2 separate regions of the Homo sapiens genome follow, and region 2 is linked to region 1. A link means that fine-mapping ties the variant in region 1 to the expression of a gene that starts in the linked region. Tissue or cell type: whole blood. Region 1 holds a variant in brackets; the other region holds the start of a gene. All regions are shown on one strand. Distances are from middle to middle.

Region 1 (5,377 bases):
ACGCACTACCATGCCTAGCTATTTTTTATTATTATTATTTTTTGTAGAGACAGGGATAAGATCTCCCTGTGTTGCCCAGGCTGGTCTTGAACTCTTCAGGTTCAAGTGATCCCCCTGCCTCACCTTCCCAAAGTGTTGGGATTAGAGGCATGAGCCACTGCACCTGGCCATAAACAAGTTCTTAAATACCCAGTACACAATATTGTTTTTGTTTGTTTGTTTTTGACACAGAGTATCGTTCTGTTGCCCAAGCTGGAGTGCAGTGGTGTGATGTCGGCTCACTGCAACCTCAGCCTCCCAGGTTCAAGCGATTCTCATGCCTCAGCCTCCTGAGTAGCTGGGATTACAGATGCCCGCCATCACGCCTGGCTAATTTTTGTATTTTTAGTAGAGATGGGGTTTCGCCATGTTGGCTAGACTGGTCTTGAACTCCTGATCTCAAGTGATCCACCCACCTCGGCCTCCCAAAGTGCTGGGATTATAGGCGTGAGCCACCGCGCCTGGCCACGATAATGTTTTTTGTTAGCTACCATGATTTTAAAAGACCCATACAGAGAAAAAATCTTGGTTCTACCAAGAGCTAGTAGCATATGTTCAAGTTGTTAATGTACTGTGTACTGGATGGTTATTTTTAATATTGCACTTCTTATTTTTCGCTCTTCACAGAAACGATAGATAATTCCCAAGGAGCTTACCAAGAGGCATTTGATATAAGCAAGAAAGAGATGCAACCCACACACCCAATCCGCCTGGGGCTTGCTCTTAACTTTTCTGTATTTTACTATGAGATTCTTAATAACCCAGAGCTTGCCTGCACGCTGGCTAAAACGGTAAGATGTGTGTCCAGGAAATACGTACTTTAGCTACAGTTATTTGAGATACCAGGTATGTTAATTTATAGGTATTTTACTTGGATACCCAGGGATGATTTCTACTATATTTATTTTGAAATCTCCTCTTTTTCTTCCCATCATGATTACCTACTCCTACCCCTGACACCTTACTCTACCCTATGATTATAAGCAGTGATGTGCCTACAGAGCATACTGAGCAGAGTAATCAAAGAAGGATAAATGATGTTAAGAAGGAAACATAAAAGATTAGAAAGTCATGCCTGCCAGGTTTGGTTACTAGAATAGCTGTGCATCAGCCACATTCCTCAAAGTGGCTCAAAACGAGAGAATAAAGAGGACCCTGTAGAGATAAGTACTACTTAACTGGAAAGAAGTCTGTTAAGCATTGCTGCTGTTCCGTTGTCCTGTGAAAGAACCAAGACATGCTTGTTTACTAAGTGTATAGTTTTATAAAATTCCAGTCATACTCATAAGTTCTTAAACTGGGAGTGTGAGAGAATGGTTCTGTTGAGTTTGTTGATGGTAGAACATAAGGTGGGTGTTCACTTATTTTGTAAAAATGGTTTGTAATTGTAGAATAACCAGTTTTCGTCAATGCACATATTTTACCATGGATATTAATATTTATCAGGCTTTTGATGAGGCCATTGCTGAACTTGATACACTGAATGAAGACTCATACAAAGACAGCACCCTCATCATGCAGTTGCTTAGAGACAACCTAACAGTGAGTTGTTTACTCTTTTAATTTTATTTTCTTTTCAGAAACAAAAGTATTTATATTTTATTTTGGACTTCGTGTCTTTTAGGGAAGATACATACGAGCTGAAAGTATGAGATACGTGTTAGTATTTTATGGGACGAACATTATTTTGTAGGCAGGTTTTCAAGTTGAATAGGCATTTTATCAGACCTTCCTGAGAAGGTTCTAACATGATAGGAACTCAATATTAATATTACTATTTCATTGGGATGAAGATGTTGATAAATTATGTTAATAAAGAGCTTATCAAGTTTCAATATTTTGGGGCAAATCAGCTATAGCCAGTTAGGGACTATCTAAATATCTACGCTTTCTTAAAATCACAGGAAGTACCTTGTTCTAATAAAAGTTTACTTTGTGAATTGTGCATGATGTTCTACAAGCATTTAGGGAGTAAACCTATACCTAAACTTACTCCTTCTCTGCTTCTAGGCAAAAGCTTCTGTTTTGTTTGTCTTTTTCTCCCTGCTTCTTAGATAGGCAATTGATAAAGGAAGTAATCAAGAAAAAGTACAGCTTAAGCTTTACTTTAACATTCTTTTGTAGGTTCAAGTAAATTTGATAGGTAAAATCTTAGACTTCACAGAAGGAAAAAGAAGGGAACAAATCTTTTAATATAGATCTCGTCCTCCCAGCCCCCTAGTTTGGTGCTTTATCATTTACTAGATAGGATTTTTTAAATATTAGCACCATGTCTATTCAATTTTGCTGAATAGGGTAATTATGAATCCACTGAAAGGGGAACGAAGACCCTGCATTTCTAGCCATGAGAAGTGCCTGTGGTTGTGAGGGGACAATGGAAGATGATCAGCAAATAGTTCTACAGAGGAAGAGCAAATTAGGCAGTTATACCTCTTCCCAGATGTATACCTTGGAGCTAACTATCTTTTAATCGGTTTTGTTTTGTTATCTCTATTATGGAGACAGGTCTTTGGGGGATTTTGTTTTGTTTGTTTTTATTTAGTATC[T/G]TCATAATAATCTAAGGATTATGTAAGATTCTGGCTTTTCTGAAATTAACACTAATGTCTTGCTGTTGGTCTAATAAAGTGCAATTATAGTCAATAAATACTGACTTCTCTTCTTCACTTCATCTTCCTATCCTAAAATCAGAGAGATCCTGGAAGATCCACTTAGTTTTAACATTCTGTCTAATTCAAGAACCCTGTCTATACATGCACACATTGCTTCCCTGTAGCTTCCATCACCCACTTCTATTTAATTCTTGGAGAAACACAAAGTAAGTCTGCTTTTCCTATAGTTTAGCCCTTCACACACTTGAAAATTGTTAACCATGATTGTGGCTTTTTCCTCCCTGTGAAAATGTTTTGCTTTATTAGTCTGTAATAATAATGCAGTAGTGCTTTCAAGAAGAGCATTGGGCTGCTGGGAATAGAGACTATCACTTTGCTTATTCTGAAAGTAGAGTGCCTTTTTAAAAAAGTTTCTCTTTTTTTTTTTTTTTTTTGAGAAAGGATCTCACCCTGTTGCCTAGGCTGGAGTGCAGTGTCATAATCATGGATCACTCCAGCCTCAACCTCCTGGATTCAAGCAGTCCTCCTGCCTCAGCCTCCTGAGTAGTTAGGACTGTAGGCACACACCACCCCGTACCTGGCCAATTTTGTTTTTGAAATTTTTTGTAGACGTGGGATCTTGCTATGTTGTCCAGGCTGTTGAACTCCTGGCCTCATGCGATCTTCTCATCTTGGCCTCCCTACGTGCTGAGATTACAGGCGTGAGCCACTGTGCCTGGCCAAATGCTTTTTAAATAAAAAGGAAGCTATAAAACCATGCTCCAGTGGTATATGTATGTATGTATGTATGTCATTTTGTAAGTGCATAGTGAAAGGTCTGCAAGGATGTACTTTGGGAAGGTGATGGTCTTTGGGGTTTTGAGAGAGAACTTCAGTCTTAGTCAAGATCTCCATTGTTTGAGGAATTTACTACTCTTGTAGTTAATTTTGATATAACAATACTACTTAGTGTAATTGCCTAATCTAGAAATAGTAACTTAATATGATTCTTCTTTTTCTAGCTTTGGACATCAGACAGTGCAGGAGAAGAATGTGATGCGGCAGAAGGGGCTGAAAACTAAATCCATACAGGGTGTCATCCTTCTTTCCTTCAAGAAACCTTTTTACACATCTCCATTCCTTATTCCACTTGGATTTCCTATAGCAAAGAAACCCATTCATGTGTATGGAATCAACTGTTTATAGTCTTTTCACACTGCAGCTTTGGGAAAACTTCATTCCTTGATTTGTGTTTGTCTTGGCCTTCCTGGTGTGCAGTACTGCTGTAGAAAAGTATTAATAGCTTCATTTCATATAAACATAAGTAACTCCCAAACACTTATGTAGAGGACTAAAAATGTATCTGGTATTTAAGTAATCTGAACCAGTTCTGCAAGTGACTGTGTTTTGTATTACTGTGAAAATAAGAAAATGTAGTTAATTACAATTTAAAGAGTATTCCACATAACTTCTTAATTTCTACATTCCCTCCCTTACTCTTCGGGGGTTTCCTTTCAGTAAGCAACTTTTCCATGCTCTTAATGTATTCCTTTTTAGTAGGAATCCGGAAGTATTAGATTGAATGGAAAAGCACTTGCCATCTCTGTCTAGGGGTCACAAATTGAAATGGCTCCTGTATCACATACGGAGGTCTTGTGTATCTGTGGCAACAGGGAGTTTCCTTATTCACTCTTTATTTGCTGCTGTTTAAGTTGCCAACCTCCCCTCCCAATAAAAATTCACTTACACCTCCTGCCTTTGTAGTTCTGGTATTCACTTTACTATGTGATAGAAGTAGCATGTTGCTGCCAGAATACAAGCATTGCTTTTGGCAAATTAAAGTGCATGTCATTTCTTAATACACTAGAAAGGGGAAATAAATTAAAGTACACAAGTCCAAGTCTAAAACTTTAGTACTTTTCCATGCAGATTTGTGCACATGTGAGAGGGTGTCCAGTTTGTCTAGTGATTGTTATTTAGAGAGTTGGACCACTATTGTGTGTTGCTAATCATTGACTGTAGTCCCAAAAAAGCCTTGTGAAAATGTTATGCCCTATGTAACAGCAGAGTAACATAAAATAAAAGTACATTTTATAAACCATTTACTATGGCTTTGTAACAATTGCATACCCATATTTTAAGGGACAGGTGAATTTACTACTTTCTAAAGTTTATTGATACTTCCCTTTTATGTAAAATGTAGTAGTGATACCTATATTTCCACATTGTGCATTGTGACACACTTGTCTAGGGATGCCTGGAAGTGTATAAAATTGGACTGCATTTCTTAGAGTGTTTTACTATAGATCAGTCTCATGGGCCATCTCTTCCTCAGATGTAAATGATATCTGGTTAAGTGTTATATGGAATAAAGTGGACATTTTAAAACTAGCAAAGTTAATTATGTGATTGTGAGTGCCTTGGCTGTTATTAGAATTGTGCTTCAGTGGATATTCAAAAGGAATGTAAGAGTTCAGACACAGATACTCCTCAACTTAAAATGGGGCTACACCCTGATAAACCCATTGCAAGTTGAAAATACGAAGTCAAAACTGCACTGAATACACCTGACCTAATGAACATTATAGCTTAACCTATCCTACATTAAATGTGCCCAGAACACTTAGCCCTACAGTTGGGCAAAATCAAAGAACATGAAGCCTACTTTATACTAAAGCGTTGGATCTCTCAGGTAATTTGTTGAACACTGAAAGTGAAAACCATTGATTGTATAGGTACTTGAAGTATGC
Region 2 (5,377 bases), 45 kb before region 1:
TTTTTTGTAGAGACAGGTTTTTGACATGTTGCCTACACTGGTCTGGAACTCTTGGGCTCAAGCAATCCACCCACCCCGACCTCCCAAAGTGTTGGGATTACAGACATGAGCCACTGTGCCCAGCTGGGATTATTTTTATAGATTACAGGTAGAGAGAATTGAGTTTCAGAGAAGATCAAGGTATCCAAGGTCAAATCACATATAAATAGCAGGGCTGAATTTAGGGTCTTCTGGCTCCATGTTAATGTGCTCCTTTTTGTTCCAGGAGCTTCTTCATACCAGGTAACTTAGAAAAAATAATAAGAACTTCATAAATAAAGTAATAATTTCTCAGTACTCCCTTTGCTAGCTGTCTGTTCCTTGCACTTCTTCCCAGTATGTTGGATGTGATGCTTAACAGGTTTCACATTTATTAGGGTGAAGCTCCTAGAAGACAGAGGCTGGTCTGATCCATCCTAGGATCTCTACAGCATCTAGCAGAGATCTGGGGAGACTTGGTGAGGCAGCCTCAGCAGTGGTTAAAAAGATGGGCTTTGGCACCCAAACTGCATGGGGTCCATATCCAAGGTTCTGCCGCTCTCTAGCTGTGTGGCCCTGTACGTCATGCTTGACCACCCTGTGCCTTAATTTCCTTGTCTGTGAAATAGAGATAGTGAGTATAATAACACCTACTTTGTAGTTGCATTAAGCAGATTGGATAAGTTAATTCTTGCAAAAGACTTAAAATAGTGCTTGACATATGCAATCACTCAACACAGGTTAGCTCTTTCTGTGTCCAGGGACTTCAAGTTCCCAGAGCCTTGTTTCTCTCCAACCCGAGTTCTTTCAGGCACAGAAGCCTTTAGCTATGTAGAGGGTCCTCTGAATCTTCCTAAAATGCAATTTTATACTGTGTTATTGGTTGGAAGCAGTTTTTACCCATGATTCCAGATGATTGCAACTAGATGAGTTGGTGTTCAATAAATATTTGATTGAATGAAAGCAGAAATTTCAGAGACTAAGGTACAGAAAGCAGCAAAAACTTGCCCAAGGTCACTGGGGGAGACCACAGCACAGCCTAGACTTTCTGACAAAGAATTTAGTGTGCTTGCTCCTTCTGGTAGTCCCTCTCTACCACAGAGGTTCCATCCCCTGACAATTTCCTCTCCTGGGTCTCTATCCCCCATCCACCTCCACTGGCTTCTCCCCTTGCCCGGGTTGCCTCTAATTTTGGTGAGCTTGAAATTCACTGGTCATACAGAAGGCATTTTATCTGACCTTCCACATGCAAATTCTTTCCATTGGGATTTCTCGGTGTCCAGCTCCACCCCAGCCCACAGGGCCATAAACACTCATGTGTCTGTAGCGGGGCCCCAGGGATTCCAGAAATAACAGCAGGGCCCTCCATTAGAAGGCTGGAACATAGTAAGGCATTTCTGCATTAAGACACAGGCCCTTTCCAATCCAGGCCGCTCCTGTCTGTCAAAGCACAAAGCAACCTTCACAAGTCAGGACAGGGAGGGGCAGTCAAGAGGGAGTCTGAATTTCTGGAAAGTCGGCACCTTCTCCTCCCATCTGTCTGCACTCTCAAATCTCCCATTCTAGAGATTCTCCGGATTTGCTCCAGTCTCCACTCAGAATGGGAAATTCTTTATGATCCATTCTCCTTAGACCTGCTGGAATCGGGATCATAGCAGCGTGAACCCAGAGGGCAATTCTCATCTTAAGATGGCACAGGGACCACGCGCCAGACGGGCAGGGCAGCCACCCTACCTGGATGGAGTTAGGGAACTGGGGAAGTGCAAGGAGAGACAGGAGTGGTTTAAGAGGAAAGGGAGCTGCCAGGGATGACCCTGAATGGGAGGGGCCTGGGGGAATCTTTCTCGCTTCAGCAGGGTGTTCCCCAGGAGGAGAAAATCAGAAATCAACATCCAGGGAGAGGATTTCAGCTTTTCAAGTGACCTCTCACAAATAATACCAGAAACAAAAGCGTGTGCACATGTGACAACGATGTGAAAAATGATGTATTTAGGTGCATAACCTGGAAAGCCTAAAAGATACATAAAAATTGCTTTTTTTTTGCGGGGAGAGATGTTATGGGCAGGGTTTTTTTTTGCGGGGGTGGGAAGGGGTAGTAATAGGTGTTTTCCTGCAAATTGTGCTTAATGTCATTTCTCATTTTAAAGAAAACCACAATACTTGGCATTGTCACAGAAACTCCCCTGGATCTTCTGGGACCTACCTTTTCACAAGGGAATTTTTTGTTTTAGGATGCCCATCTGAAAACTTGAATTTATCATGTAAATGCCATACTGAAGACACCGTCTCCAGAATCAATTCTTCTTTAATGGGGATGCGGTTTGCTTAATTCGGAGCCCTAATGGCAACGTCATTAAGGTCTGGGTTTAGTGTCTTGGGATCCAAACCTTTGTCACGGATAGAAAGGTGGAGGAAAGAAAGGCCCCCGTGCTCTAAAACAGCTGAATATGTCACCCTCCGAAGTCCAGCCTCGGCCAGAGCCCGTGAGATGCAATGCACCATCCGCAGCGGGAGACGCAGCCGCCGCCTAGGAGGTCGTGCGCGCCTCTGGGTCTCGTGCCGCACCCAGAAGTGCCGGGGTGGCGGGGAGGCTGAGGGGAGTTGGTAACGGCATCGCCATGGCAACAGTGACGTCCTTTTACCCTGGATCTAATTGGAGGAAACCCCGTGGCCGAAGCCGCAGCCTGCCGGCCAACCGAACTTCCCCGTACCGACCCACCCTCCTAGCCTCCGCGTTCCCTCCCGCTCCGCCCCCCTCGCCCCCTTCCGCGCGCTCGGTCCTCATTGGCCAGCGGCGCGCTGGGGGCGGGACTCTCGGGAGAAGCTCGGCGCATCATTGGGCGGTGGACCGCCCCTCGGCCCCGGGGTAGGCTGACACGGGAGGGTCCTCAGCTAAAGCCAAAAGCAGATCAAAGTGGTGGGACTCGCGTCGCGGCCGCGGAGACGTGAAGGTGAGCGCCTGGGTCGGCCCGCGGGCTTCCTCCGGCCGCGCTCGGATTGAGGGCCGGGCGGAGGTGCCGCCCTTGAGAGCAGCCGGTTGTCGATGCCGCTCCCCTCAGGGACGGCTCCGGGCGGGAAGGTGCGGGGCCAACGGTCGCTTCCATCTTGGGCCGGCCGGGCGGGGGTGGCGGGAGCGGCCGCGGCTCGGGCTCCCTGCGCGCGGGGCCTCCGCGCCGCCCCCGCCTCCTCCAGCCGCGGGCCGCGGCCTCCCCGGGTGCCCAGCGGGGGAGGGGGCGGGGGAGAGGGAAATTCAAGCGGCCGCGTGTGCGGGAGACAAAAGCGGGCGGCGGGCCGCATTGTCTGACGGCGCTCCCTCTCTGCTTTTTGTTCTCGCCTCGCCGCCCCGCCCCTCCGCAGCTCTCGAGGCTCCTCCCGCTGCGGGTCGGCGCTCGCCCTCGCTCTCCTCGCCCTCCGCCCCGGCCCCGGCCCCGCGCCCGCCATGGAGAAGACTGAGCTGATCCAGAAGGCCAAGCTGGCCGAGCAGGCCGAGCGCTACGACGACATGGCCACCTGCATGAAGGCAGTGACCGAGCAGGGCGCCGAGCTGTCCAACGAGGAGCGCAACCTGCTCTCCGTGGCCTACAAGAACGTGGTCGGGGGCCGCAGGTCCGCCTGGAGGGTCATCTCTAGCATCGAGCAGAAGACCGACACCTCCGACAAGAAGTTGCAGCTGATTAAGGACTATCGGGAGAAAGTGGAGTCCGAGCTGAGATCCATCTGCACCACGGTGCTGGTGAGTCCTCGGCGCGGGGAGCAGGGGAGGCCTTTTGTGAGATGCTTTTCATTGAGAGTTTCGCGGGCACGGAAACAAACGTGAGCCGGGGCTTGCCGGACTGTCTGCTGGGGTGGAGGGTTTTAGGTGAGCCCTGACTTCCCTACTGTGTCCCTCCGGTTGTTGAGACTCAAGAAGCCGCTTTTCCAAGGATAAGTCCTTTTTTTTCGCCCCAGATGCTGGGTAGCTACCAAACGATGGAACTTGGAAACATCCAAGTAGGTCTCTGCGAGACTGAAAGGCGTTTTTAAGTTTCTTGTGCGGGGAGACTGCGTCCTGAGATCTGTGAGCCCTTTAAATGTATTCAGTCGGTTCACAAGCTTCAGGCAGTTGAAAGAAGGCGCAGGCACCTTTTTGTTACAGACAATGTAGTAGGGATTTTTTCCCAAACCCAGTAATGGAAATTTACTTAGAAAATCTGAACAGATACTTTATTTTTCAAGTAAGAGTATCTGTTGTGCTCCCCCCCACCCCCCATAAACAGGAGAGGAGGGGAGTTCGGGAAATGTGAAAAGGACACAGCTGTATCTGAAGAACACAATGTCCTGGTAAATTTCAACATTTAATAACATTTCCTTGCTGTTGCACACCTGTGCTTAAACACTAGTGTTGAAGTGAATTCGTTTCCAGTGTGGAGCAGACAAGGAAAGCTTTCCAGGTTTTGAACTGTCCAGTCTTAGCAAGGACGATTGTTGGGTGGAGTAGGTGGCTGCTGTGATTCACCCTTATTAGTGAGAGAGAACATTTTTAGCTTTGTCATTCCATGGATCTTTTGATCCGTAGGATAAGTTTTTAAAACTGAAATACCAGCATTATATCCAGGAGTGTTTTTAAATGTTTCAGTGCTGCCAAGAGTCATTTCTATGAATAAAATGGGAAATAATCTCATATGGTTTGCCTTTTAAGTGTCACTTTTACAAGAGGCCTACTTATTTTTGATGTGTTTGTGCACATCATATTTTAGGTGGGCTTTGATAGACAAGCATACTAGACTGGGGATTTTTCAAAAGGGAATGGAAGAAATAATTTCTCCCTGGCCTCCTCCCCCACCCCCACCCCCCAAGCCGCCTTTCTTCATCTCATCAGAATGGTGGGGCAGGGAATATGTTCCCCACCCCTTGTTTAAAAAAAAAAAATCCACGAAACTTTTTTAACCTATCTATTTTTCTAATACGATGACAGGCGATCCGGACAAAATCATGGCTGATGGAAATAACTGGTAAAGAGGCAAAGAAAGTAATGCAGACAGTGTGTACTAAAGTGGAGAAAACTTAAGATTATTTACTTTATGAAGTCAAAACTTCGTTGTATTCTTCCGTGTGCTCTTAGCTTCCAGTCCCTGCTTGGCATTGAAGAAGCACTTGTAAAAGCTTTTTGGACTGAATTGCTCGTATTAAAAAATTTTGCCAACTTGAAAGTAGTGGTAGACTTCAACTTGAGTAACATATGGTAATGGCTGTTAACAGCATTATCTGTTACCAAGGGAAGACTCATAAGAATTCCATATGTTAAGGTTTTCTATGTATGTATTTTGGATACTCTTACAGCATATTTCATTTCTGTTCAGTTTATTGCTTTTCAATTAGT

Evidence for each region.
Region 2: it holds the start of YWHAQ, and the variant in region 1 is fine-mapped to the expression of YWHAQ in whole blood (TOPMed, PIP above 0.99).

Annotation. Positions count from the first base shown.
Region 1 is chr2:9,583,618-9,588,994 of GRCh38, reverse strand. It overlaps YWHAQ (tyrosine 3-monooxygenase/tryptophan 5-monooxygenase activation protein theta), which reads left to right. Exons shown (of 6, transcript NM_006826.4): 4 at 667-830; 5 at 1,486-1,581; 6 at 3,650-5,028. The coding sequence ends at 3,709. Among named protein-coding and RNA genes, the nearest start is that of ADAM17, 30 kb to the right of the region's middle. The variant T/G (reference allele first, on the strand shown) is at 2,586.
Region 2 is chr2:9,628,533-9,633,909 of GRCh38, reverse strand. YWHAQ (tyrosine 3-monooxygenase/tryptophan 5-monooxygenase activation protein theta) reads left to right here and starts at 2,913. Exons shown (of 6, transcript NM_006826.4): 1 at 2,913-2,969; 2 at 3,376-3,751. The coding sequence starts at 3,458. RefSeq lists silencers at 2,592-2,761, 2,812-2,911, 3,112-3,461 and enhancers at 3,582-3,681, 3,425-4,327.